Linked DNA regions of Homo sapiens. The protein of the gene in region 3 interacts with the protein of the main gene of each other region in a biochemical or structural test. Each region holds a gene or a part of one and is shown on either strand. Other genes may lie near its edges.

The links.
Region 1: of the proteins of PTPA (region 3) and PRKCB, one has a biochemical effect on the other in vitro, tested with the Homo sapiens proteins (one study listed by BioGRID).
Region 2: of the proteins of PTPA (region 3) and DTD1, one has a biochemical effect on the other in vitro, tested with the Homo sapiens proteins (one study listed by BioGRID).
Region 4: of the proteins of PTPA (region 3) and SULT4A1, one has a biochemical effect on the other in vitro, tested with the Homo sapiens proteins (one study listed by BioGRID).

The regions. Positions count from the first base shown.
Region 1 is NC_000016.10:23,838,980-23,846,002, forward strand, and holds part of PRKCB (protein kinase C beta type), read left to right. Parts: intron 1-618; exon of another isoform or gene 619-980; intron 981-7,023. UniProt on the Homo sapiens protein: Calcium-activated, phospholipid- and diacylglycerol (DAG)-dependent serine/threonine-protein kinase involved in various cellular processes such as regulation of the B-cell receptor (BCR) signalosome, oxidative stress-induced apoptosis, androgen receptor-dependent transcription regulation, insulin signaling and endothelial cells proliferation.
Region 2 is NC_000020.11:18,583,782-18,591,071, forward strand, and holds the start of DTD1 (D-aminoacyl-tRNA deacylase 1), read left to right. Parts: upstream 1-4,272; 5' UTR 4,273-4,291; coding exon 4,292-4,334; intron 4,335-7,290. UniProt on the Homo sapiens protein: Possible ATPase involved in DNA replication, may facilitate loading of CDC45 onto pre-replication complexes. An aminoacyl-tRNA editing enzyme that deacylates mischarged D-aminoacyl-tRNAs.
Region 3 is NC_000009.12:129,142,415-129,149,437, reverse strand, and holds the end of PTPA (serine/threonine-protein phosphatase 2A activator), read right to left. Parts: intron 6,994-7,023; coding exon 6,886-6,993; coding exon of another isoform or gene 6,538-6,885; exon of another isoform or gene 2,052-6,537; coding exon 1,974-2,051; 3' UTR 492-1,973; downstream 1-491. UniProt on the Homo sapiens protein: PPIases accelerate the folding of proteins. It catalyzes the cis-trans isomerization of proline imidic peptide bonds in oligopeptides. Acts as a regulatory subunit for serine/threonine-protein phosphatase 2A (PP2A).
Region 4 is NC_000022.11:43,824,493-43,831,515, forward strand, and holds the end of SULT4A1 (sulfotransferase 4A1), read right to left. Parts: intron 4,707-7,023; coding exon 4,568-4,706; intron 3,149-4,567; coding exon of another isoform or gene 3,108-3,148; exon of another isoform or gene 3,022-3,107; intron 1,622-3,021; coding exon 1,509-1,621; 3' UTR 17-1,508; downstream 1-16. UniProt on the Homo sapiens protein: Atypical sulfotransferase family member with very low affinity for 3'-phospho-5'-adenylyl sulfate (PAPS) and very low catalytic activity towards L-triiodothyronine, thyroxine, estrone, p-nitrophenol, 2-naphthylamine, and 2-beta-naphthol.

The DNA.
Region 1 (7,023 bases), on a different chromosome or scaffold from region 3:
GGAATGTGTAATTTCTTCTTTGAGGTTGCCTTTCACTTCCATGAATCAGTTTCAGTCTTTGTCTCTTGCTGAGATCGGGGGCGATTTTTAAACATTTTTACCACGGATCTTCTATGCCACCTGCTCTGCTGTTATTGATGGATGGGAAAGTCACTTTGGAATGTGCAAGGCATGACACATTTGAAATAGGAGATCCTTTAACTCAAAGTCTGGAAGATAATAGGAATTTTCTGATGTTAAGAGAAAAAGGCAGAATTAAAGTTTGTAATGAAATATGGGCGCTCTAGAGATAGGAGTGTCTTTTTTTTTTTTTTGACAGGGTCTCACTCTTTTGCCCCGGCTGGAGTACAGTGGTATGATCAGAGCTCACTGCAGCCTCAAACTCATGGGCTCAAGTGATCCTCCTGCATCAGCCTCCTGATTAATTGGGACTACAAGTACGCACCACCATGCCTGGCTAATTTTAAAACAACTTTTGTAGAGAAGGGGTCTTGTGATGTTGCAAGACTGGTCTTGAACTCCTGGCTTCAAGCAACCCTCCCACCTCAGCCCCCAAGTGTTGGGATTATAGGTGTGAGCCACTATGCCCCTCTGGAGTGTCTATTTTTTAAATTGCCTTTCTTTTTCTCTTCCCTGCCTCCCCACCAAGAGGCAGCGTAGAGAAGTGGGCATTTGCACAGGCTACCAGGCAAGTCCCTGTCGGTCTGAATCCTAGCTTTGAGACTTCCCAGGCATATTACTTAGCCTCTCTGTATTTCAGCCTCCTTGTCTATAAAACGGAGTCAGTAACAGTACCATAGTGTGGCTGAGCAGCTCCAACTCATTGCAATATCCAAGATTCTTGGACCAGAGCTTGACACAGAGTATGCTCAGAAAATATCTGCTCTTATGATTGTCCCCAGACTACCCCAATGGTGGGGCAGCTGGCACGAGAGAAGACTGGCTCTGCAGGGTTGCTTTGCTATGGAACTGCCTGCCAGGTAAGAGTCAAAACTCAGCCATGAACTTCTGGTCACTCTGTGTAGCTGCTTTGACAGCATATTCCATTTGGGCAGCAGTAGGGAGGAGTGAGGGGAGGGGCAGATTGGCAGTCCCTGAAATTGAGATGTTTAGAATGGGAACATATAGGAAAGAGGGAAATTTATCCCTGGTACTCAGCATTGCCTGGGACTAATTCTGGAACCACTGAGGAGTTCCTTAGTATCTGATTGTTCTTGGTATCAGATATTTCCTCTGAAAGTAAATCCACTTACGATGGAATCAACAGTTTATACAAAACACATAAGGTTTTATGATCTCACTTAAGTCAGCAATCCAGAGCCCAGGGCCTCAGGTTCCTTTGAGTTTTCTGCTCCACTATCCCTGGGGAGTGACAATTATCTCATGGTCCAAAAAGGATGCTAGACGCTGGAGTCCTCACACCCTTCTTTCAGCTAGCAGGAAGGAAGAAAGGGGTAAAGAAGGGCATATAGCACATGCTCGGTGTCACTTGTTTAAGTTGCTCAAGATCCTTCTACCTACATCCTCTTAGCTAGGGTTTAATCACATACCCACACCTTGCTGTGAGGGAGCATGTGGGAAATGTAGTGTTTATTTCAGGCAGCCACTATTTAGAGGATGTTTCCATTTCAAAAATACAAGCAGAGAGAGGATGTTGTCTCTGCCACTCTGGTAGGAGGTGTGTAGGATGATCGCAAGGCAAAGAAACCATTGAGAGTAACCTTCAGGCTCTATTACATTGTCATGGAAATTGGGGACACTGCTATGGGTTGGGAGAGGAAGGATGGAAAACTCATAAACCTTGGGAAATTATGGATTTCTGTGTGCTCAGGGGAGCTTAAGAATAGATTTTCTTGCTTTCGTATGATGATAGGACGAAACTCTAGGTTGACTGCCTCATAATTTCTCCCTTTTTGTTTCCACTCTGTCTATTTCTTATAAAACCACTCTCTGGGAGGTAATTTAAGAATGTGTTTGATGACAGGGAACTGGGGCTGAAGATCCCTATTGTAAAATTGCCTAAATTCTAGAGTAGAAGTGGAACTCCTTTGACAAGCAAGGCAGATTTCTCTCTATGGCATTTTTTTCTTTGCCTTTTATTTATTTATTTATTTATTGAGACAGAGTCTCACTCTGTTGCCCAGGCTGCAGTGCAGTGGCACCATTTCGACTCACGGTAACCTCCATCTCCTGGGGCTCAAGCGATTCTTCTGCCTCAGCCTCCCAGGTTGCTGGGATTACGGGGGCCTGCCACCACGCCTGGCTAATTTTTGTATTTTTAGTAGAGATGGGGTTTCATCATTTTGGCCAGGCTGGTCTTGAACTCCTGACCTCAGGTGATCCACCCGCCTCGGACTCCCAAAGTGTTCAGATTACAGGCATGAGCTACAGTGCTGGCTGTTTCTGTGGCATTCTTTACAGGAACTTAGGACCTGCATTTGAGCTTTAATTTTAATTAAAGTCTTCTCTAAGAAGATTTTTGGTAGAGAGAAAAACCTTCTTCTTTTATTTTAAATTTTGTTTTTAGAGACAGGGTCTCACTGTGTGGCCCAGGCTGGAGGGCAGTGACATGATCATAGCTCACTGCAGCCTCAAACTCCTGGGCTCAAGTGATTCTCCTGCCTCAGTGTCCTGAGTAGCTGGGACTGCAGGTGTGTGTCACCACGGCCCTTTTTTTTTTTTTTTTTTTTTTTTGAGACGGAGTCTTACTCTGTCATCCAGGCTGGAGTGCAGTGACGTGATCTTAGCTCACTGCAACCTCCACTTCCCAGGTTCAAGTGATTCTCGTGCCTCAGCCTCTTGAGTAGCTGGAACTACAGGCACGTGCCACCATGCCCGGCTAATTTTTATATTTTTAGTAGAGGTGGGGTTTCGCCACGTTGGTTAGGCTGGTCTCGAACTCCTGACCTCAGGTGATCTGCCCGCCTTAGCTTCCCAAAGTGCTAGGATTACAGGTGTGAGCCACTGAACCTGGCCAAATACATATTTTTTAATTTTAAAATTTTTTGTAGAGATAGTGGATCTTGCTTTGCTGCCTGTGCCTGGTCTCAAACTGCCAGCCTCAAGCCAGGAGTCTCATTCTGCTTTGGCCTCCCAAAGTGTTTGTTGTTTTTGTAAAGGAAGTGACTTTGGTAGAAATAGAGAGGCAATAAAATATAGAGATTCAGAATTCTTAGCAATGAGTTGGAGTCCAGTAGAATTGGGTATGTATCTCTGATGGAGCCGCTTACTCCCTGTGTGACCTTGGGCAAGTCGTCCCCCAGCAGCAACTTTGGTCTCCTCATCTGTAAAATGGGGATAATAGCACCTAACTCATAGGGTTATGGTGAAGAATAATGAGGTGGTGCATGAGAAATAGCCACAGCAAGTATCAATGACTCTAAGTGAGACCATCAGTATTACTTGATTAGCTGTAGGAAACTGTGTCAAAGTGGGACGGAGTTCATTCTGGAACTTGTTAAATGACTAGGCCTCTTTCATGTACTTAGATAGTTTCTCTTCTTGGGTATATTTCTTCCTGGGTATTGGGTAACACCAGTGAGTGCTCAGTTCAGTGTCTGGGCCCAGAAACCCATGCCTGGTTAGCATTGTCTTTTCTTCTGAGAAAGATCTGAACTTGCCATGGACTCTCTAGAAAAACCCCAGTGTACAAATTTTCTATGAAAAGCTAGAATTGATGATTATAATGAGTAAGTTGGCTCTTCCTTTTCCCATGTAGATTAGAAAACATGTTTTTAAATCTTCTAATTGAAATTATTCTTAAAAAACCCCAAAGTCTGACATGACTCCAACTATTGTTGTTTTCATCAATATCAATCCTATCAAATCAAAGTTTATTTTAGTGTGTAATTAACACATGTAGACTAGAAAAGTTTGCACTTTTTTATATCACAAAAAAGGTTAATTTTATTTTCTATGGAAAGCTAGAATTGATGATAATGAGTAAGTCAGCTCTTCTTTTTCCCATGTAGATTAGAAAACAGGTTTTTAAATCTTGTAGTTGAAATTATTCTTAAAAAACCCCAAATCATGACATGAATCCAACCATTCTTGTTTTTATCAATATTCACCCTATCAAATATAAAGTTTATTTTAGTGGGTAATTAACATGTGTAGATTAGCATAGCATATGTGTATTTATATAACAAAAAATGAATCAAAAGTTAATTTTATTTTGGGCAGTGTTCCCTAGAAACTTATAATATGGCCCCATGCACTTCAGGTTGAATTTTCTTAGTAAAATCATAAAGAGGTCCATTTTTTCAAAAAATCACCAAGTCAGGCTGCAAGTTTAGAGGTTACTTCTATTGTTTCACTTCTCTTTCTTCCCAGAAGCAGACCCCAGAGACCTGTGAGCCAAACTCCACTCACCTTTTAGCTTATTCTAAATGTGTCCTGCGGGCTTCTCTGTGAATAAAAGGCAGAGGCTTTTTGACTTCGTGTTTGATGATTTGGCTTTTTTCTTTTTTTTACCACCTGACGGGGGATTTCAGGCTCAATGTCCCAATCGAAATAAGAATCTTTGAGTGGGTTAACATTGAGTCTTAAAAAGGAGGGCTGATTTGTTGGAGAGGCAACAACGAATTCATTTTTCACTGTAGAGCACTCAGGAGGAGTCTGAAGCTTTGTCACTGGGCAACAGAATGCCTTTCTAAGTAAATATGGAAAATATGACCTTTGAAAATCTAGCTGATATGATATATAGATTCTTAGGATATAATTTTTAAAAAATATATTATTTCCAAGCACTAATGATACTCCAGAGATACTGCCCACAACCAGATGCAGCATGTTTATAGTGTATCTAGGCCAAAAAAAAAAAAAAAAAAAAAAAAAAATAGAAGATACAGAAGAAGGCAATTGGTCAAAAGATTAACTGAAGGTTTGAAAATAATTTTATACACATTTGTACTGTTGGGGTCTCTCTTCTCTCTGTCTCTGCTTATCCTTCTGTCTCTGTCTCTTTGTTTCCATCACACATGCACACACACACACGTGTATACACACACATATATGTAAGTAGATCAATATGTTATAATTTTCACAATACGCATCTTCTTTTGCTACTTTTCAGATACAGGTCATTAAATTACTAAGTATAATTTAAAATATATGGTCTGGCCTTTTAACTCTGCAGTTCAATTAATTCTTGGGTAGATAGGGGGATCTGCTGAAAAGTTTGTCTCTGACGCCTTCAAAGGTAAGTCCCTTATGTTCTGGCATTTGCTCTAATAACATGAATTCTTTGACTTCATTCATCCAATCTCTTCATTGAAATTGTGTGAAATTCCATAGATAGAATGTTAGCCTTTTTACAGAGAATACAACATCCACAGTGTTTACATATGGCATTTGGAGGTGTGATGGCTGCTTGAAAATCCAGTAGGAAATTTGTCTATTCACCACATACATTCATTTATTCATCCATCCATCCCTCCATTTATCCACCCACCTCTCTATTCATCATCCGTTTTTCTGTTTATCTATTTGTCCATCCATGCATCCATCCCTTCACTCCATTCTCCTTCTAAAAGTTCTTTTTTTTGAGACGGAGTCTTGCTCTGTCGCCCAGGCTGGAGTGCAGTGGTGCAATCTTTGGCTAACTGCAAGCTCCACCTCCCAGGTTCACGCCATTCTCCTGCCTCAGCCTCCCGAGTAGCTGGGACTACAGGCGCCCACCACCTCGCCCGGCTAATTTTTTGTATTTTTAGTAGAGATGGGGTTTCACCATGTTAGCCAGGATGGTATCGATCTCCTGACATTGTGATCCTCCTGCCTCGGTCTCCCAAAGTGCTGAGATTATAGGCGTGAGCCACCGCGCCCAGTCTCTTTTTTTTGTTTAGACAAACTCTCACTCTTTCGCCCAGGCTGGAGTGCAGTAGTACGATCTTGGTTCACTGTAACCTCCGCCTCCCAGGTTCAAGTGATTCTCCTGCCTCAGCCTCCCAAGTAGCTGCGATTACAGGTGCCCACCACCTCGCCCAGCTAATTTTTGTATTTTTAGTAGAGACAGGGTTTCACCATGCTGGCCAGGCTGGTCTCTAACTCCTGACCTCAAGTGATCTGCCCACCTCAACCTCCCAAAGTGCTGGGATTACAGGAGTGAGCCACCACACCTGGCCTCACTGATTAAGTTCTATGTGTCAAGTTCTATTTGTCAGGAACTATTTTAGGTGACAGAATACAATGGTGAATGAAACTGAGAAAATTTCTGTTGTCATGGAGCTTATGATGTAGCGGGGGGAGATAAGACATTCTACAGATCATTTCACTCATATTTAACCTCATTTTTATTAGGTACTTTGAAGAAAATGGACTGGGTACCGGGAGAATATATAATGGGAAGCTAACCTATGTAATGGCTGGGGATGCAGTCAGTGGTCTGGGAATTAAAAAAAAAAAGCCCAACTTCTCATTCTCATTTTCTGAGGTAACTGGAGAAAGTCTGAGTTGTCAAGGAACTAGAGCTAAAAATCTGTATTGTAAAACTGCCCATATCCTGGATAATATATGCAACAGGGCTGAAGGCAGTGGCTCATGTCTGTAATCACAGCACTCCGGAAGGCCAAGGCAAGAGGATTGCTTGAGGCCAGGAGTTCGAGACCAGCCTGGGCAACATAACAAGACCCTATCTCAATTAAAAACAAAACAAAATATGTGCAGGAGACTTATCTTTGTGACATTCTATGGAGAAACCGTAAATATTTATTTGTATCATGGCTGCAAGTAAGATGAGTAAGTATTTGGTAGAACTAGCCTGTTACCTTGAGATGGCTTCTTTCCCAGTTTGACAGAGAACTTCATCTCCTCTTAGTTAATAACTCAGATAATGAGCTGACTTCCTTTTTGTTTAGGGTTTACAGTTTGAGGTGGCTGTTCTAAAGAAGAAAAATCAGACAATTTCAGAGGTGGAGGAGCAAGTCTGGGCCAATAGATTGAAAATAAATAAAAAGAGAGAGCACGGCATTTCAGTGAGAGGCATTTTGAGCTGAAAGTCAGTTTTCAGGGAGCACAAGATTACTC
Region 2 (7,290 bases), on a different chromosome or scaffold from region 3:
TTAAGCCAAAAAATTGGCTTCTCACACTTATTCCTTTGGCAATATTACCTGAGCCCCAGGTACTGTGTTAGATGCTGAGGATTCAGTGGTAAGCATGAGAGACACAGGTAGAAGAACACAGCTTACCAGGCAAATAGACTCATTGAAAGTAGCCAGAAGATTATGAGAGAAAACCCACAGGACAAACATGAGAAAAACAGGGAGCAGGAACACCTACTTTTCTTGGTGTGGACAGAGAAGGTCTATCTGAGGAGGTGGCATTGAAGCTGAATACCTAAAGGCAGGAGAGGAGTGTGTTGTACAAAGAGTGAATGAATGTAGAGGAACCTACCTGTTCCAGGTGGAGCAAGAGCAGATCCTAAAGTCCTGAGCTAGCAACCAAAGACTATTTGAGGAATTTAAAGGTGGTCAGAGTCTGGATTGTTAAGACTTTATATTCTAAGAGCATCACTTTCATCTGTGCCTGGAGAATGGATTGGAGAAGGACAAAGGGGAGGTAGGAAGACCAGTGAGGAAGGTGTGGTAGAAATCCAAGTGGGAAAGAATGGTGGAGCAGGATGCTGCAGGAGGGATGGAGAGAAGAGGGCACTTTGGGATAGGTTTTGGAGAGGGAGAAGATTTGCTGATGGACGAGATACTTAGGGAATGGGGAAGAGAGCAATCACAGGTTACTTCTGGCTCCAGTAAACAAGTGGAGCCACTTATTTAAGTGGGGATTTTCCAGGTGCGATGGCCCATGCCTGTAATCCCAGCACTTTGGGAGGCCACGGCAGGCGGATTACTTGAGGTGAGGAGTTTGAGAACAGCCTGGCCAACATGGTGAAACCCCATCTCTACTAAAAATACAAAAATTAGCTGGGCATGGTGGCAGCACCTGTAATCCCAGCTACTCAGAAGTCTGAGGCAGGAGAATCACTTGAGCCTGGAAGGTGGAGGTTGCAGTGAGCCAGAACGAGCCATTGCACTCCAGCCTGGGTGACAGAGCGAGACTCTGTCTCCAAAAAAAAAAAAAAAAAAAAAGGTATGACTCTTATGGTGGAGTATGAAGGGCTTCGGGGTTCATTGAACACCAACTGGTGAATTGCAGTTCAACTCTGGCAGGAATCACCTGGAGTTAGAACAGATCCTGCAAGTTTAAGGGTACGTTTCCCAAAAAGATTGCCCCTATTTCAGGTGCCAACCACACTTGGGTGTCCCCAAACCACTTGCACTTCAGACCAACTGGCTACACAGTCAGGAGTATCCATGACTCCCTAGGGTTGATAATGCACTAGAATCACTCATGGAACTGAGGAAAGTGCTGTAATTATCATTTATAGTTTTATTATAAATAATACAAATTAGGACCAGTCAAATGAGATATGTTAGGCAAGGTCTGCGAGAGTACCAAACACAGAGCCTCTGTGCTTTCTCCCTGCGGAATCAGGGCCATTACCCTCCCAGCACATCAATGTGTTCAGCAACCAGGAAGCTCAATGAAGCTTCAATGTCCAGAGTCTTTCCTGGGATTTCATCATGTAAGCATGACTGATTGAATCATTGGCCACAGGTTGAACTCAATCTCTGTCTTCTACCCCTCCCACAGGTTGGGCTGGCTCAGACATCCAGTCACTATTGGTCTTTCCAGTGACCAGCTCCCAATCTGAATTGTCTTGTTAGTAAACTCAGGAATAATCAAGGAGCTCATGAATAACAAAGATACTCCTGTCTCTTGAGAAATTCCAAGAATTTTTAAAGCTCCATGCCAGAAACCCAGAATTAACAAAGGCCAAAGTCTTTATTGTACCATAGGGGTGAACATTTTGAATTCCATTTTAAGTATGTTAACTTTTTTTTTTTTTTTTGAGACACAGGTTTACTTTGTCACCCAGGCTGGAGTGCAGTGGCAGTGATCCTGGCTCACTGCAACCTCCGCCTCTCGGTTTCAAGTGATTCCTGTGCCTCAGCCTCCCAAGTAGCTGGGATTATAGGTGCCCACCATCACGCCTGGCTAATTTTTGTATTTTTAGTAGAGATGGGGTTTCACCATGTTGGCCAGGCTGGTCTTGAACTCCTGACCTCAAGTGATCCACCTGCCTCAGCCTCCCAAAGTGCTGGAATTACAGGCGTGAACCACCACGACCAGCCCAATTTTCCCTTTTTTAGTCTTATTCTTTCAGGAGTGCACAATGGAGTTTTCCAGGGGCTCCGTGACATATAGTGACTTCATTGCTCTGATATTCATATGTAGGGGATTTATTATTGCTATTTTTAAATGCATTGATAAATCCATGTTAACTATTTCTCTTAGTTAAAAACAGTAAACATTTTTAGATATAATCCACCTAAACAAAAGCTATACTTTGTGCCCAATAATTTTTAAGAATGTAAAGGGATCCTGTGATCAAAATATTGAGACCTGCTGATTTTTCAAAAACTCAAATTTTACCAGTTGTTCCAATAATAAGCTTTTCCTTTTCTTGATTTTTCTGGCCAGGATACCACCCAGGTTAATTTAGTTTTCCTGTCTTTTTTTTTTTTTTTTTTTTTTTTGAGACAGAGTCTTGCTTTGTCACCCAGGCTGGAGTGCAGTGGCACGATATCGGCTCACCGTAACCTCCGCCTCCCGGGTTCAAGCAATTTTCTTGCCTCAGCCTCCCGAGTAGCTGGGATTACAGGCATGCGCTGCCATGCCTGGCTAATTTTTGTATTTTTAGTAGAGACGGGGTTTCACCATGTTGGCCAGGCAGGCCTCGAACTCCTGACCTCCAATGATCCGCCCACCTTGACCTCCCAAAGTGCTGGGATTACAGGTAGTTTTCCTGTCTTTTAAAAAGTCCACGGCTGGGCGCAGTGGCTCATGCCTGTAATCCCAGCACTTTGGGAGGCCAAAGCGGGCAGATCACCTGAGGTCGGGAGTTCGAGACCAGCCTGACCAACATGGAGAAATCTCATCTTTAATAAAAATACAAAATTAGCCGGGCGTGGCGGCGCATGCTTGTAATCCCAGCTACTCAGGAGGTTGAGGCAGAAGAATTGCTTGAACCCAGGAGGCAGAAGTTGTGGATAGCCAAGATCACACCATTGCACTTCAGCCTGGGCCACAAGAGCAAAACTGCATCTCAAAAAAAAAAAAAAAAAAAATCCTCCTTAATTCTCGGAATCCTACCTGGTTATTTTGTAGAATGTTCCTCAATTTATTTTTGTCCTATGTTTCATCATGATTGGATTCAGGTTATACATTATTTGGCAGAAATACCACAAGATTGATGTTGTGTCCTTCCCAGTGCAATATCAGGAGGCACATGATGTCTTGTTACTGGTTATGTTAACTTTGACAACGTTATTAAGGCAATTTAGTATTCAGTATTTAACAAACAAGCACACTAGTTTGTAGTCTTTTCTGGGCAAGTGAGGGTTTCTTCTCAATTTCAGTGCCTTTTCTACGCCCACCAATGCTATTAGTCACCTTTAAGGTGAAGACTGCTGAGATGGAATTATTTTTAGCAATGATAATAATTTGTTGGGGTAATAGTTGTACAGCCCTTTGCTGCCATCTAAGCACTTTTACGTGGTTTGGTTCATTTAAATCTAACAACCCAGTGAGGGGGCCAATTAGTAGCATTTATATTACATGAGAAATTAGAATTCTAGAATCACATACCTATTTATTATCATGACATGGCTAAGTCGAATTAATAGTGAGATAGGTAAATGGCTATTTTAGGCAGCAGATCCTTTTGTATGTGGTATCTGAAAAGCCACTGAGGCAGGAAGACAAGGAAGAAGAATTTGGGAGGATCTGCGTGCAGAGGAGTGGAAGAGGAAAGAGGAATACAATTAGAAATAGGATTCAGGCTGAATTTAAAGGCTTAGTGATGACGGGTTCTTAGGTTCGGGTATGTGGGAGAAAAAAACCAGCATAGAGACTACCTTCGGGGCAGAGTGGGTTCTGGGCACTGGGTAGGGGCTGGGCCCGGGATGGGGGGATCAAAGGGCTCTGGCGGGACCCAGATGTGGATGGGGCAGGGCCGAGCGTGGGGACTGGGCTTTTCAATGACGGGCGGGGTTACGGTTGGGCAGCAGGTGGGCGTGGCAGGCATAGGCGGAGTCAATCTATGAGTGGGTGGGCCTATCGCCAGGCCGAGAGTGGGCGTGGCCGACGTGGGGTGGGTAGCAGCCGACCGAGTCGGACCGGCCAGTTGGGCGCGCTTCCGGGTGTCACCTCCAGAGGGCGCCGGCTGCGGAGCCGCCCTCAGAGTCGCGAGGCCGGACGCAGCGCGGCGCCGCCCCACTCGCCCCAGCCGCCGCCATGAAGGCCGTGGTGCAGCGCGTCACCCGGGCCAGCGTCACAGGTCAGTCGGGCGGGGCCGGGCCCGGGAGGAGCCGCCCCTGACCCCCGCGACCGGCTGTCTTGCGTGGGGGGTCTTCCTGCGCCATCCTTGGGGCCGCTGCGGCCCCTCCGCGAGCCTGGTCCCCTTCGCGAGCTCGGTCCGCGCAGCCGCGAGTCCCCAGGGCCGGCTTCGGGGCAGCGCGGCGGCCGGAGAGCCCCCTGCACGTGCCCGACCGGCCCCGGCGCGCCCCTGGCTTCCGGCTCTCGGCAGAGGGTGCAGGACCAGCGCGCCTCATTCTCAGCACCTTTGTCCTGCGTGCGGGATGGCGGAGCCTCGGAGCATCTCCGTGGTCCGCTCTTCAGGGAGTGTTGATGAACCACGCTTAGAGCATTTCCGGAGCAGGCACTCCTCCCTTTTCACTGCTGTATTTTAAATGTTCAATTTTTGCCCATTTTTACGTATTCCAATTTTTATGGGGCTTGACTCAGGATGAAATGCACAGATGCGGAGAGTTGCTCCTTGGGCTGAGCTTTGACAGTTGCGTGCACGTACGTGACTGGAGCCTAGGCTGGATGAGGGGCGCCCCCTGCCCAGGACGCCCCTCGCCCTCGCCCGCTGAACTCTGCGCGGAGGGGTCGGGATCTAAAGAATTCAAGATGAAAACATTTCTCTTTTTCTTGTGGACCAAGCTACCCGACCCCTGGTCATCACTCAGCACTTTCGTCTCGGTTGGGCATCAGAGGTCCAGATGATTAGTGTAGATAAAGTAGTCGTTTTAAGAAAACCACGGTACGAAAGATATTTTTTAAAAAACATTTAAATGACAAGCTTTATATTGTCTTTAGTCTTTTCTGTCTTTATTGGCACAACTATATTGTTTCAGTTCAAATAATTTCAGATATCCTGTCCTTGGAGCCAGTCTGCACCAAATATGCGTTCTTGTGTCCACAAAAGTATGAATTAAAAACAAAACAGGCCGGGGGCTGTGGCTCACACCTGTAATCCCAGCTCTTTGGGAGGCCAAGGCGGGCAGATCACCTGAGGCCAGGAGTTCGAGACCAGCCTGGCCAACATAGAGAAACCCTATCTCTACTACAAATACAAAAATTAGCCGGGAGCGGTGGTTGGTGCCTATAATCCCAGCTACTCGGGAGGCTGAGGTAGGAGAATCGCTTGAACCCGGGAGGCAGAGGTTGCAGTGAGCCGAGATTGTGCCAGTAACCTCCAGCCTGGGCGACAGAGCGAGACTCTGTCTCAAAAAACAACAAACAAACAAAACCCCAAAACAAAAAACAAAACAAAACAAAAACAACAAAAAACCCTAAAGAAACAACCAAACCCACCAAAACCGTATATTTAAATCTAAGAGTCTATTTTTCAACCCCGCCTAATGATTTCTAAGCTGTTCTGGTAGCTTTGGTTTTGGAAATGGTCCTGGAATAATAGGGAATAGAGTAGCACTGGGATTTAGGAATTTTAAAGCTTTTATAACATTTCTGTAGATATTTAAATTCATGAAAACTGGGAAAATTCATAGATGAAAGATGTTTTGCATTATTGAGAAGAACCTTGCAGTCTGCTGCTGTGTGTGGTCGTCACTGACAGATTTAAATTTTGATCTCTCTCCTGAACTCTCCATCCTGCTAATCTGGAATATTGAAAATGTGTATTCTGTGAGATGTGCTGAATAAGAGTTTGGGTTATTTTGGTTCACTATTTAAGTTATATGCTTTCAGTTAAAACAACCAAACCTGCATATTAAAAAAGATAAGGGTGTTAATTATGGGAAAGTGTAAATAATTCGGGAATTCTGGGTTGGGGAACTGTGGAATTCTGTTAGAAGGGCCCTCCACTTATGCAGGCCTTCTAGTTGCATTGTAATGGAAAGGGATTTTCTGATTCCTTTAAAATGTGGCTGGTTTCACTGAAATGTGGCTGTGTTTGAATGGCATTTTATTTTAGGGGTTCTAAAATGTTAACTTCCTGTTTTATGGTCAGGACAGCATAGATTATCAGGAGTCACACATTTTATTTTATTTTAAAATAGTTGGTTGACTTCACATTTATTTTAAATTTATGCATTTATGGTTTGTTTGTTTTAGAGATGGGGTCTTGCTCTGTCACCCAGGCTGGAGTGCAGTGGCACTATTATAGCTTACTACAACCTCAAACGCTTGGGCTCAAGTGATCCTTTAGTTTCAGCATCCTGAGTAGTTAGACTACAGGCGTGTGCCGCCACCGCTATGTCCAGCTTAGGAGTCACACATTTTACTATGTGGTATATTCAATTTATGTGATTGGTCAAACACATTTTTTTTTATAGTAACCCTGTAATATCATTTGATGCCCAGTCCATCAGATTTCTCCAATTGGCTAATTGGTTTTGTTTTTGTTTTGAGAGAGTCTTGCTCTGTTGCCGAGGCTGGAGTACAGTGGTGCCATCTCTGATCACTGCAGCCTCTGCCTCCTGGGTTCAAGCGATTCTCATGCCTCTGTGTCCTGAGTAGCTGGTCTTACAGGTGCGCGCCACTGTGCCTGGCTAATTTTTTTGTATTTTTAGTGGAGACAGGGTTTTGCCATGTTGACTAGGCTGGTCTCAAATTCCTGGCCTCAAGTGATTTGCCTGCCTCGGCTTCCCAAAGTGCTGGGATTACAGGCATGAGCCACTGCACCCAGCTTGATCAAACACATTTTGATGCCTTAGGTTGGGTACTGTGATAATCTAATTTTTAAAAGTTTATTATGGCACATTTCAAACATATTAACAGACGGAATAGGGCAATAACCCCCATGTCCCATCATTCATTGTCAGCAGCTAAAATTTGATGTCTGTGAACAGTGTTGGAAGAGGATCTAAAATGTTTGGGTTTAACTAGGTTAACTTCAAAGGTTATGAATTCTTGAAGTAGAGATCTCAGGTCTGATGCCACTAGTAGGTAGAAAAATTGACCAAACATCTCAGTCTTTTCCAGCCCTT
Region 3 (7,023 bases):
GCCCCAGAGACCCTCAACTCCAGCCCAGCAGGGACAGGAGGGGCAGAGGAGGGAGAATAGAGGGCCACCCCCTCACAAACCACAGGTGCATGTTCCACTGTCAAAGCCCATCCAAAGGCTCCCTGGCCAGCTTGGGGCTAAGTTGGGAGTCCAGAGGGGCCCCCTTCACCAAGCACAGCTGCAGTGACCACCCGGGATATGCTATGTGCCAGGCCCTGAGCTGAGGACTTCACATCTGCTGTCCACTGCTGGCAGTCACCCTGTGACTGTCCCCATTTTGTGAATTGAGGAAGCTGGGGCTCAGGGGCTTCAGTAACTTACAACCTTGCAGCTGGGACTGCAGACAGCTAGGATTTAAACCCAGGAAAGGCTCAACCCAAATTGAAACAGCTCGTCTCAGACACTGTGGCCTGAGAGAAGGGGACCTGATGGAGGTCAGTCATGCAGAAATGGGTTAAACATGTGACATGAAAAGACATACCTCACACAAGTGACAGGTGCAAAACAGAGGCTTTAATCTGAACAGCAATGAGGGTGCAAGGGGCTGGGAGCCCATAGGGGGATGGGGGAGCCAGGAAGGGCTGTCTGGCCCTGGGAGAGAGGTGGACGCTGGGCCTCTTCTGAGAAACTGTCACTGACCTTTGGGACTCCTGACCCAGCCTCTGCCCAGACCATCACCGGATCCCAGGCTGAGCCCCTGTGCTGTGCTTCTCAGTGCTCCCCCTTCCTGAAGGGTGTGTGGACCCAGACACAGGAGGGGGCAGTGGAGAAGGGCAGGCCTGGGGGACGAGCCTGTAAGAGCCAGGCCCAGGAACAGCCCTAGGAGAAACCTCGGCGGTGGCCCTCAATGGGCCTGCCCAGCCCCCACTGGGCCCATTCTGAGTGCCAAAGCCTGGGCTTGGGAGGCTGTCTCTTACCTCACCCTATAAAAGCAATGGACAGTTCAGGGAGGTGGGAGGACAAGGTGTGGGACTGCCACCTTCTGGGCCCACCCATCACCCAGGGGAGCAGAGAAGCAGGGCCCAGGGGCCCAGGGTGAGGCTCACAGCAGCGCAAAGGTAGCAGAAGTGGCCGGGCCTAAGACTGCCAAGAGGAATCCAGGCTCTCCAGATACAATGGGCCCCAAGCCCCTCCCTGAGTTTCTGCCATCCCCTCCCTGCCAGGGAAAGTTCTGGAAAGACATGCCTCACCCCATCATCTGGGCCCTCCCAGGAGCCCAGCACCTACCCAAAGGGCAGCTTCCATTGGCTAGGTTACCCTTAGGGAGCGGGAGAGATGTGGCTACAGTCAGGAAACCCAGCAGAGCCAAGGGCTAGAGAACTGAAGAGCCAGGGGGAGGCTTGGACACAGGGGGCCTCAGGCCCAGGGGGCAGGGTGAAAAGGAGCCTGGGAGGGGCACCAGCCAGGACAGCTAAGGCCTCTCCACCACCCGACCCCACCCACCCCACCCCAGCCCACAGCTGGCGGCCAGCCTCAGCTTCCAGCCCTACCATAGATGGCCACCCCGGCATGGCCTGGGAAACTGACCCGCCCCTGCAAGGAGCAGCTCCAACCCTTAGAAAGGCATCGACTCCAGGAAGGGAAAAGCAATGGAAGCAGCAGGTATCTCTCCTCCCTTCCCTGCGGTGCTGCAGAACAGCCCCTGCTCTCAAAACCAGACTGGACGGGAGTGAAGGGAGAAGAGGCCAGAAACAGGAGAGAGTGGCCGAGTGACCAGGCCCCAGACCCTCTCTTCTGGCCAGTCTAGCACACGGGAACTCAGAAAACTGGCTACACTTTGGTCACTTCTCCCAACTTGGGCCCTGAAGCCTTATGCTCTGAGCCCCCTCAAGCCCATCTCGCCACCCCACCCCAGTAAACAGCCTCTCATCAAACGGGACGAACAGAGGGAGGGGATGGGGAGGGGCCACTGCTGGGGTGGGGAAGGCAGGCACAGGAACTGTGGCCTGGGTGGCTCTTCGGCTTGGCCCCTCCTAGCCCGACGTGACAGGATGGATGGGCAGCAGGCTCCCGAACTTGAAGTGCTGGATCACAGGGAACTTCTCCAGGCACTGTGAGGAAGGAGCAGGTGAGCAGAGTGGTGAGGGCCACACCACACCCCTGCCAGGACCCCAACAACCGCAGCAGCTCCCAGGTGTCCATCCCGGGCCCAGGAAGTAGCCCCGCCAGGGGATCCCCCAGGCCTTCCTCCCCCAGTTCCTCACTCCTTCTATCCAAAGACACCCACTCCACAACGAGACCCACGAGAGAGAGAAAGAGAAAAGGCAGCCCAAACCTACAAGGTAGAAACCGAGAAGAGAGGCAGCCAGGTGCCATCACTTGGCCCAGAGAGGGAAGTTGGGAACCTGAGGTGGAAAGAACCCTCCTGATCACTGGGGACCCCCAGCCCAGGTCCCAGTTCTAGAGAAGAGACGTGGGGACATTTGAACGTAAGCCTAAGAGGCTGAGGCCGGGTCCCAAAGCCTGTTTTCTCCAGCTTTCAGTTCTCTGGACTGAAAAAGGCATCTTGGCACTTCAGAGCGAGACAATAAGAACCAGCTGACACTGAGTTCCCCCCACCCCTGGGCAATTCCCAGCAGCCTGTGTGGGGGGCAGGGGAAAAAGAGCGCTGAACAGGGGAATGGCTGAGCACGGGGGAGGCCCGACTCCCTGAGCCCAGCCCAGCCCGGGCTCCTAGCAGAGGAGCAGAGCTGGAGAGCAAGTGACAGGGCCTATCACAGAAGCTGGCCTGGCCCACAGGCAGCCAACCCCAGCTTCCAGCTGCAGCTCCCGCAACAGCACCCCCATGCCTGCCACACCTGGACACTAGCTCTCACAGGAGCCGTTCTGGGCATGCGAGGGTTGGATCTGCCAAGACTGACCAGGGCCTCCTCCCACACCTTTGGCCACAGAAAACAGAGTATGTTAGGCACCTCCTGGCTGGGGTGGAACAAGACTTATGGCCTCAGAGAGAGTAAGAGCCTCACTCTGTGGCTGTGATCTTAACCTCCAACTAACTTAGAGACAAACGGGTGCTATGACTGGCCCAGGTTCCCTCTCCTCAAAAATCAGCTGTGGAACCTAAGAGGGAGAAGCACCAGGGTGACGAGTGGGCCAAAGAGGCGCCAGGAGGGGAGGGAAAGAAGGATGGAAACCAAGCTCATGGTGGGGTGGGGAGCAGAGCCCTGGCCACAGCCAGGATCCTGGGCCTGAGACACAGAATGCGGGAGCAGGGAGCGGGAGGTGGTCCCTGGGCGGGAGGGGGAGCAGCCGCAGATCCAGGCCAGAGGCCAAGGCAGCTGCCATGGTGCTTATGTCATCCCAGAAGTGGTCATAAGAGCCCCCCCACCCCCCAAGGGCCCTGGAATTCCAGAAGGGGTCAAAGGTCAACCTCCCTCTAGCTCCCATAGAAGAAGTTGCAAGGCGAGAAGGGGTGGAGGCAGGGGTTCTTCCCATTCTGCCCACAGGACCCCAGAGCCAGCCCCCTCAGAGCCACAGGAGCTGGGCCAAGGAAGCCTAAGGCTCCAGGGCAGGAGGAGCCTCCAGCCCAGCCTTTCTCCCAGCAAGGCCCTCCCATGTACCTGGGCGGAGCAGCGGCTTCAGACTGCCCCCTGACCTTCCAGCCAGAGGTGATTCAAGCTGGGGAAGGGACTCCCTGGGTCCTGACAAGGTCCTTCTGAAGGCAGCACCCACACAGCCATGGCCCAGAGGAAAGACAGACCCTCCCCCCCGCCGCCCCGCAACCACACAAGGCCCCTGAGAGCACTTGGTTCTTCGGTCAGAAAGGCTGGGACAGAGCAGAGTTAGACCCAAATCCTGAGGCCACCTACTGCCAGGCTGGTCAGACTTCTGTGGCAGCCCAGGAGGCTGACTCCCCTCAATCAACCAGTTCTGACTGGAGACCCAGCCTTCCTACCCACCCCTGGACTGCAAGACTGGCAGGCCTTGGAGGGCCTCCTTAGGGGCTAAGAACTGGCCTGAGAAAACAAGCCCTCTCCTTGGACCTCTGTGTAGGCAACATGCCAGCCCATGGGCCCTTCGGGACCAAGGACTAAGGGCTAGTTGCTAGTAAGTTGTCAATGAGTGTTGAACACTGCAAAGACTTGGTGATCTTTTTTTTTTTTTTTCCTGAGATGGAGTCTCGCTGTTGCCCAGGCTGGAGTGCAGTGGCATGATCTCGGCTCACTGCAACCTCCACCTCCCAAATTCAAGTGACTGTCCTGCCTCAGCCTCCTGAGTAGCTGGAATTACAGGTGCGCACCACGATGCCAGGCTAATTTTTGTATTTTTAGTAGACACAGTGTTTCACCGTGTTGGCCAGGCTGGTCATGAACTCCTGACCTCAGGTGATCTACCTGCCTTGGCCTCCCAAAGTGCTGGGATTATAGGCATGAGCCACCGCACCCAACCAGTGATTTTTTTCTTTGAGACGGAGTCTCACACTGTTGCCCAGGCTGGAGTGCAGTGGTGTGATCTCAATTCACTGCAACCTCCGCCTACCAGGTTCAAGCGATTCTCCCGTCTCAGCCTCCCAAGTAGCTGGGACCACAGGCATGAGCCACCACACCCAGCTAATTTTTATATTTTTAGTAGAGACGGGGTTTCCTCATGTTGCCCAGGTTGGTCTCGAACTCCTGGCCTCAAGTGATCCACCCACCTCAGCCTCCCAAATTGCTGGGATTACAGGCAAAGACTTGGTGATCTTTTTTTTTTTTTTTTTTTGAGAGAGTCTCGCTCTGTCGCCCAGGCTGGAGTGCAGTGGCACCATCTCAGCTCACTGCAAGCTCCACCGCCCGGACTCACGCCATTCTCCTGCCTCTGCCTCCCGAGTAGCTGGGACTACAGGCACCCGCCACCACGCCCGGCTAATTTTTTTATATTTTTAGTAGAGACGGGGTTTCACTGTGTTAGCCAGGATGGTCTCGATCTCCTGACCTCGTGATCCGCCCACCTCGGCCTCCCAAAGTGCTGGGATTACAGGCGTGAGCCACCACGCCCGGCCTGACTTGGTGATCTTAAAGTCAGGGAGTTCCAGCGTCACCCTATACAGGAGCCTGTCCCCTTCCCCACACAGCGCCGGCCTCAACTAGGGCTAGAATCTCCCTTTTTCAGATTACTAGAGAGCTCCCCCATCCTGAGTTGGTCATTTTCAGTGTCCTCTTTGTGTTTGCCACCCTGTGCTCAGCCCCCACGGAGACCCCGACAGCCTGTGCAGAGTGGACAGTCCCTGTGTTCCTGCCACACCATCACCATTTTCAATCCGAATATGCTCCTCCCTCATCCTCTGGCAGCCTGGAGTTCTTTTGTCTCTGGAAGGGCAGGTGAGAGAAGGGGACAGGGTCTCTTGCCCTATCCTTTGGGCCTTAGAGCCTGAGTCGAGAGAAGTTTAGAGTCACTTGAATTAAGAGGCTTGTAGAGAAGACAGTACTTCAGGTACCAAGCAGAGAAGGCAGCCAGAGTCCTCTCTTTGGCACACAAGGGTTGGGGTTGGGAGGTGGCTGGTGGGCGATGTGCACCTCTCACATGCTCAGACACCCTGGAGGCGGGGCACAGCAGAGTGAGAGTTCCCCAGCAGCCCCCACTGTGGGACAGGCGGGGGTGGGGTCAGGAACATCAGGACACCAGAGGGCAGTGACCCAGGGCAGAGTCGGAGTGGAGAGCCGGGGGTGGCCAGCTGCAGCCGGAAGGAACCTAGGCAGCTCCAGCCAACGGGCTCTCAGGCCTCTCAGATTAGAGAGGTATGTGGGCTGGAACCTAAACACAGGATGTGAGGTCCAGAGGAAGGGGACCAAAGGGGGAGGGGGCGGAAGGGAGTGAGGGCCCGGTCTGTTCAGTTCAAGCCTCATTAACCCCTTCAGGACCAAGTGCAGGGAGCCAAGCCAACTGGAAGCATCTGTGCTCCCCCACCCCGCTGGCCTCTGGCACCCTTCCCCGTTGTCCCGCCTCTGCTGATGGGATCCAGGAAGCTCTGGGTCCAATGAAGACCTGGAGCAGCCCCTTCCCAGAAGAGAAGGCCGGCCAGGAGTCAAGAGATGGTGCCCACAGTACAGTGTCTGAGGCCATGAACTAGTCACAAGGGCCAGCCTGAGAACAGAAAGAAGGGACTTTAAGGACCCATCACTCCAGGTGTGGAACTTCACATCCAGCCCTTCCCTGGCCAAGGTCAAGCAGTTCTAGAATTAGTCTTCCCAGGAAGTGGGAGGAGCTAGCAGAAGGGACAGAGTAGAAATAAAATGTCTCCTCCCCACTTGGAAGAGAGAAAAGGCCACCTCCTTGGCTGGGAGAACAGTGCCAAGAGGGCAGGAGACACCCTCGGCTGCCTGCCAGCAGGGGGAGCTCCAGGAAGCCTCAGCTCTCCTCTCCTCAGCATCTGATTTGAGAGCAGGGAAAACCATTTGCATCAAAATCCCTGAAGCGGTCCATAAAAATGCCAATTCTCGGCCTACCCTCAGACCTCCCACCACTCAGTGATCATACACACTAACATTTGAAGGCAGCACTTTGGAGATGCCTCCAAAGGGTAAGACCCTTCCCAGGTATGCCATGGGAGAGCCAGACTCAGACTGCCCGAGCTTTGAGGAGCCTTTGGCCACTTGATAAAGGAGAAGGGAGGCCCCCATCGCCCCCACTCCCCATGCAGCAGGTCCTTGCCTCAGCCTCCAAGCTCATCAGGACAGAGCTGGACTGCAGCTTTTCGGGGCTGGGGTGGCTGGTGCTTCTCTGACTGCCCATGCCCCAGATGGGAGATTCCGAGGCCCCAAGTGTCAGAGGGGCTGGCCTAAGATTCAGAGCAAAACAGTGGGGTAGGAGGAAGCAGGAGCCCCAGGTTCCACATCTTTTGCTTTGTCCCCAGCCCAGGACCAAGTGCGGCAGCAGGGACGGGCACACTGGCCAGCCCCCACTCACCTCGGCCTTATACATGCGGATGAGACCCTGGTTCACTTTGGACCAGGAAGGGACGGCGCTGATGTTCCACAGCTGGTTGGAGTGCTCTGCAAATGGGCCAGTCTTCATCTGAAAAAGAGAAGCCACAAGCTGAAGAGA
Region 4 (7,023 bases), on a different chromosome or scaffold from region 3:
AAACGCTCGACGCAACGCCGGGAACATGTCTTTATTAAAGATGCAAGCAAGCACAGAAGGATCATGTGTAGTGCTCAGTAACATCCATACAGTACTAAAAATAGAAAAATATAAATGAAATTTCACAGAAAGCAGCCTCCCTCACAGAAACACAGGCAAGGTGCTGCCGAGCCCACCATGCGATGCCACGTGCCACCTGCCTGGCCACGCTTCTCCCCATTACAAACAAAAACACAAGCTTCTCTCTACACCCGTTTCAAATACAGCACCAAGAACGGAGACCCCTTCCACAGCAGCGACCCTCCTGACCACCACTTTGGGTGCTTTCCAGCCACATAAATGACAGACAACCCCGGTCCCCACGGGGTTGGCTGGCTACTGGCCCCCGACTCTCCATCGCTTCAGCGAATGTGGGTGAGAAAATTAGGCAGTGAAGCAATAAAGACCTCACCTTTACTCCCTCAGATACACGGAGGGATGAGGTGGACAGACACGCAGGCGGCCGTGCCAACCTGATCCGAGTGAAACAGGGCTACACTCGCAAAATGGTCCTCCCACGGCTGAGCGCCTCAGGTGCACAGAACAAACTGAATGATAAAGACCCGGGGATTTTAGAAATTTACTATTAAGCATCTGCTTGCCAGCATTAGTAGGCTATCACTTCAGGAAACAAAGTAAGGCTGTGGAATTCAGCTCAAATTCCGAGCGCAACTCGGTCCTTTGGTGGCCGACTCTCCACCCACTGCATGCAAATGCTCCTGACTGCATTAGACTCCCACCTGCCAGCCTCACCAGGCAGACTTCCCTCAGCACATGCTCCGCGGGCTCCTCTGCATTGGGCCTTTGGAGCCGCCCGCTGGAAGTCTCTGGCAGAAGGACGTCCATTCTGAAGACCTAGTGAACAATTTCTGCTCATTTCAGGAAGGTTCTGAAGAAGTGAACTCCGTCAGAATAAACAAGTGTCCAGATTCCCCCCAACAGACCCAACTCATCCTCTGTTCTCACCACTATCTCAGAACCAAGTGAGAACAGAATGGCTGTGCCTTAGATAATAAAACTACAAAAATAAAGAGTTAACCCTGAGATCTTTCTACCATTCGGGTGTGGCTCGCTCCTGATTCCCCTTGGAAATGAACTTTTATTTGGTTTACTGACATTTATGTAGATTTCCAGTGAAAAGCTCTATAAAATACAATAATACGGGGTTGAAAAGGCAGACATTCTAGTTGCATATATTACAGGCTTTATCCTTACGGTCCAGGCCATTGGAACTGCAATGTGGAGACTGTTTGTAATCAGACATGGAGAGGCTGCACGTTCTAAAGGCGAGACAGCTGCTTTCGGTTGGGAATCATCACACTCCCTCCGCTCACGCCGCTCTTCCCTTCCCCCGCTGTTTCACACGCTGCTTCCAGAGTTTGTCCAGCAAGGAATAAATGAATGCATACAGGACTTTTGGCTAGTAGACTGTCTGGGTATTGTGAGCATGCAGGTTGTTGTTTCTGTTATTATAAATAAAAGTCAAACGTGAGGTCACACTTTCCCATCTTCTGTTTATACACCAAGTCAAACTTCTCATTCATGGAGACGGTGAAGATGTCCTTCCACAGCCCAACTCTTCCTGAAACGCAAACAAGAGAACTGCTGGGGCCACTTGCTGTCCGGCCAGCTACTGAACTAAAGGAAGCCTTGGAAATGGATCTGGAACATTCCAGATCTATTCCTGGATCCCTTTGAACTTGGCCTATGGGGGCAGGAAGGGCCGTCTGAGCTACAGACCAGGTGGTCCCCTAACATTTGTGAAACTACTGGATGCGGCAGAACATGACCTGAACCAGCTTCCCTCTGAGGCTGTGGCACAGTGAGCCACAACCACCTCCTGGTGCCATTCCACACCCCCCGCTGGGGCCCACCAGGGAGACTCTACTCCTGTTCAGTGCTGGGTCCCCAGCACCTAGAACGGCACCTGGCACGTGGCAGGTGTTTAATAAACATCCCAGGAGCGAGTATGATCTGCCGCGGGAGTGCACTGCTCTGGGCATCACAGGCAGCCCTGGCCCTTCCCACGCCATTATCCACTCACAGCTCAACAGTGCCACCAAGGCGTCATTGGCTTCGGGAGAATTTGAAAAGGAAAAAAAAATCATTCAAAGTGCAGAAAATTTTACACTAAGTAGGAAGCCCTCCTGACTGGGCCAAAGATGCAGATTTCAAGAAGCCTGCCCTGGCAAACCCTGGGGAGGAATTTAAAGTGAATCAAATAGTCGCAGCATTAGCTAGCTTTACAGACTAGATGCAAAACATGCACTGCAGTGAGAATTCCCTGAGTCAACAATAAAATGAGTCTGGGCACAGCCCCCAGCTGCTCTAGCCCAGGCTTAGTCAGAAACCCAGACCTCTTCCTGGCAGCCACAAGGGAGGGCTGAGCTGTGGGATAAACTGCAGGCACCGGTCTACGCTGGTTTATGAAGGCTTTGGAAAAACGAAAGACAGCTCAACATGACAAGAGAAGTTGTTGCTCCCATTGTCTTTGTTAATATAAAATCTTAGGTTGGTCTAGTCCAATAGCAACGGTGACCGTGAAGATGTCTGGGGCGGGGATTCCAAACTTCCCAGTTATGGGAGCTGTGAGCACATCACCCGAGTACTGCCTCCCTGCTTTTGAAGAACTGCTCGTTTAGAATTCTTTCCATTGTCAGCTCTCTGAGATCAGAGCTCTGTCTCCAGCAAATGTCCTTCACTAGCTCCGTTATTAACAGCGGTCCTTGTCCAGGCAGGACCTCAGGTTTTTCAAACTGCAACCCTGCAAATGCTGAGCTAAAATACCCAACGTAACACGGACTTTCTCTTTGGTAACAAAAAATTATCAGTGTTGGAGAGAAAAACAAGAAAAATTATTCTTGTAACCCTTTAATGATACCTAAGGGGCAAAATTAGAAGCTGCTAGAGCAACCAAACTATTTTTCCATGATTATTTTTCTCAGCTGAGACAGCTGAGAGCTCGTCAGAGGAGTCACCCACCTGGTTTAGGATTTGGAATCAAGACAATTTATGCTGTGACATGAATCAAATCTAAGCAATGCAGCTGGCTACTCGGCCCTGCATTCTCACCAACTCAAGAAGATCTTCCGAGCAAAGACGCAATGTGCTAAAAGAAAACAAATCAAAGAACTGAAATAAAGCAAAACCAAGGTAAACCATGATAAAGCAAACCCAAGGGAAGGAGCATATGGGCACACAGTATGTTCTCGACGCTGCTTCACCACACACACACACACACACACACACACGTGAACCAAAAGGGGTATTTTGGAGAAGGTCACATCCAAGGATAACAAAACACAGCAAAAGCAAAACTAAAAAAGAGCAAATAAATGTTAAATAACAAATATTTATGAAAATGCAGCCAGGAAAGAAGTCGAGAGGGACTGTGGTTCAGTTCACTTCCTCCTGAGGAGTCCACTGCTCTGCCTTTATAAGAGACGGCACTTTGCACTTGACCTTCAAACCGCCCTTAGCCGTGATCAGCCCCTTTTCAGAGAAGAACAAAAAGCCGCAGAAGCTGAAGGCCTGACCTATGTTGCGTTCCCAGAGGGCAGCAGAGCTGAGCTGGAGCCCAGCGCGTCTCTCATCCGCCCCAGGCATCTCCCACTCCATCTTGTGGGGCTGCTGCTGAACAGAGCCATCCACGTTTCTGGGCCCTCCCTGCAAACATTCTCAACCCAGGAAGTGCCCAACACACCAAGTGTCCATCAGGTTCATACTTACCAACAGGGGGCCTCCTATGGCCAAGGCCAGCACCCTGGGATTCAGGGGTTTTAGAGCCTGGGCTCTCCATCATCAAAGCCAAATGCCACACACCCTTAAGGACAGGGGGAGCAACCCAGGTGGATCTGGGGAGGATTCCTGTCAGGAACACTGTCCCCATCTCCAGCTGCCTCATGCCCACTGTCACTTGCCGCCAAGAGCAGGAACTGGCCTCCCTCTGTGCAGCGGCTTAGCTTGGTACTGTCTGCTTAAGTTCACCACCCCGAAGTGGGGCTAGGCCTCACCTGTGCTGCCTGCACCCAGAAGATGCTCAGTCAGCGTCCACTCAGTGAAGGAAGAAAAACGGTGTCTCCTAACTTCCCGCCCACTTCATTTAACTCTCCCACAAGTCAGTTAGAGACTGAGAAACCCATCAGCATGCTTTGCGCTTTGACATGTCATAGCACCAAACCCAGTCCCTGGATCTGCTCTGTGGGGCGTTTGATTTCAGGCCATCTGAGTAGACTCCCTGCTGAGAAACATCCCGCCCACAAAGCCTGAAATGCACTTTTTCAAGTCAAAACACTGTTTGCTTGGAGGCAATGCAAACACCAGCGGGCAGGGTACTCCGTCACTCCATGAGCACTGTGCCATCCATGGGCACCAGCTAACAGAGCACAGGCCATGGGCCAGCTACAGACTGCTGTAAAAGGAGAGCAGGGAGGGCAACAGGGACCGGACTCGGCTCCCTAAGCAGGCAGAGAAAGCAGCCTGGCTGGGGTGGGGAGTGCCTGGGCGGGAGGCAGGGTGGGGCACGTACCCCGGCCCACGGGCAGGGCCTCAGCGTTGCAGCACTGGTCCACCAGCTGGTGGCAGTGCTCCGTCAGGGCTTCCAGCTGGGCCTTGTCACAGGACACCCCCAGGAATCTGGCCAGCTGCTCCACCATCGTCACCAGGTCCTGGAAGACAAGTGCAGAGAGCAGAGCAGCCCATCAGAGGCGGGGCCTTTTACTGGACACGACCCCAGGCTGGGCACACGCTGAGGACTTTTTACACACGGCCTTCCTTACTTAATGCTCACAAGGCTGACATCAGCCTTGTCCAGAAATAACACTAAGAGGTTAAGAAATCGCCCAAGTGTGCTCAGCTCTCACGTGGAGATCTTGAATTCAAACCCTGGTCCTCCAGGGAATTGGGTTGCAGACATGAGGTCTTAATAGAGGTGTGGTTAAGTTTTAACAGGAGCAAGAAGTAAAAAACATATTTCAGAACATGGTTCTTGTGAGGAGCAAGACCTAATGGGCTCCTCTTTCCCTTCCTGCTGCCTGTCAGCTGGCGTCTGGGCTGGCCCTTGGGAGCGCAGGGAGGCCCCTCTGGTCTCCAGATGGCCCTGCACTGGGCAGGGAGCCCGCTTCATCACAGGCAAGATTCCGTCATGCCTGCCATACCCTGCCCCATTATTTTACCACGCCTGACAGCGGAATGTCACTGATGTGGCTAACCGTCTTGAGGGGGCCATTCCCCAGCCCCCCACCCCTGCCACTTTCTCCCCAAGAGATGAGGCTCCTCGTCTTCTCAATCACAGCCCTGAGCTGTCACCTAGAGGTGCCTTGGTCCCATTAGGAAGATGCTGGAGGCTGTTTCCTCTCTGGAAGGTTTGTAAAGCAAATTCCCGCATTAAAGCCTCTAAAAAGTCCTACAGTGAAAAGATGATTTAATTTCTTTATTGCAGCACTTCGGAAACCTTAAAAGACAATGTTCTCTGACCGCTGGTGTGGGAGTCAGCTGGTGTGGGCGCCAGCTCCTCCCTGGGTCCCCACAGTGCGCTGACTCCTGCAGCAGCGGTTGCAGGTCTGATTCTGGCCTCGCACTGCCTTCCACAGGCAGGGGTGTGGTGCATCCCGGGCGCAGGGCTTGACTCAAGAGTCAGAGGAACAGTTATTAGAGAATGAGCCAAGGAATACAGAGCTCCCTTTCCCTTGCCCTGCCACCAAGAACTCCATTTCAAAGAAAAAGGGTAGCAATGGAGAAAGAGTGAAGAAACCTGGCTCTCAGAAGAGATGCCGCAAGAAGGACACAGCTGGCTTAAAGTCAGCCTGCTGGAGCGTTCAGCAGAATCCTCGTGGGGCAGCTCACTGCGGCGTGACGTCCATCTCAGAGGAAGGGGCGTTTCTGCCAGGCTACATCCAGCAACATGTCACAGGACACTTGCTGGTTATGAAACCCAGCAGGGATCAGGCAGAACGCCCAGGTCAGCTGGCAGGAACGGCCCACTTCACCTCTCTGAGCCACACATTCCCCATCTGGAACTAGCGACAGGGCCGCAGCAAGAGGCCGCACACCACGGCACGGAGCCAGCGTGTTGGGGTCGTGCCTCCACATGGGCAGGTACTAGCTGGCCACACGGTTGCAGTCAGGGCACCCCGTGACTGGTGAGAACACCCTGCAAGATGACTGAGGATGAAGTGGGAATATACCCGGGGTGCCTGGCACAGTGCCCGGCTCGTGGGAAAGGGCCACTGTAATTGCGGTGCAGTGGAGCGCAGGCAGTGAGCGCTCTGGCAGGAAGCATTCCCTCTCAACCCCAGGGTGAGAACACATGGACCCACACCACAGTCCTGGAGACAACCATGCTCACTCGGGGCTAGTTTTCTGGAGTAAGATGTAAACAATATTAATTCCTAAAAATGTGACTTGACCTCCATTAAAACAAGCCATTACTGAGGTTCCTAAAAAAAGAATAAACCCATGCCAATTAGAAGGCGAAACGCTGACTGTCCCAGGGATGCCATTGAGTCACAGACCGGCTTTGATAGAAAATGAAGTCCCAGCACTGACCCCGGCAGCTCTTAAAGTTCCAGGCAGGGCTGGTGGCCTTGACCCTGACGGACTGAAAGCAACAGGTCTGACCACTTTCACTGGGGAGCCTGGAAGGCAGAGAAGGATGAACTTCCCTTTAAGGGCTTGGAGTAAAGTGTGTGTTTGGACCTTAAAACTTCAGTCCATCATTGCTGAGGAAACTGAAGCTCCAGGAAGAAACTGCTGACCCGGCAGCTGCCCCCGAGATGTGTGGGCAGCTGGCCAGCTGGGCGCTTTCCCTATTCACCTTCTCATGTTGGGGCCTCAGTGGCCCTGGGCAGTGCATGTTCAATGCTATGTCATTGGTGGCAAAATAGTGACCAGCTGACAAATGCACACCCAGGACCCCAGAAATTCCACTCCTGGGTATGGGCCCGATAAGCACAAGTGCTGACGTCCACCAAGACTCCAGAACGT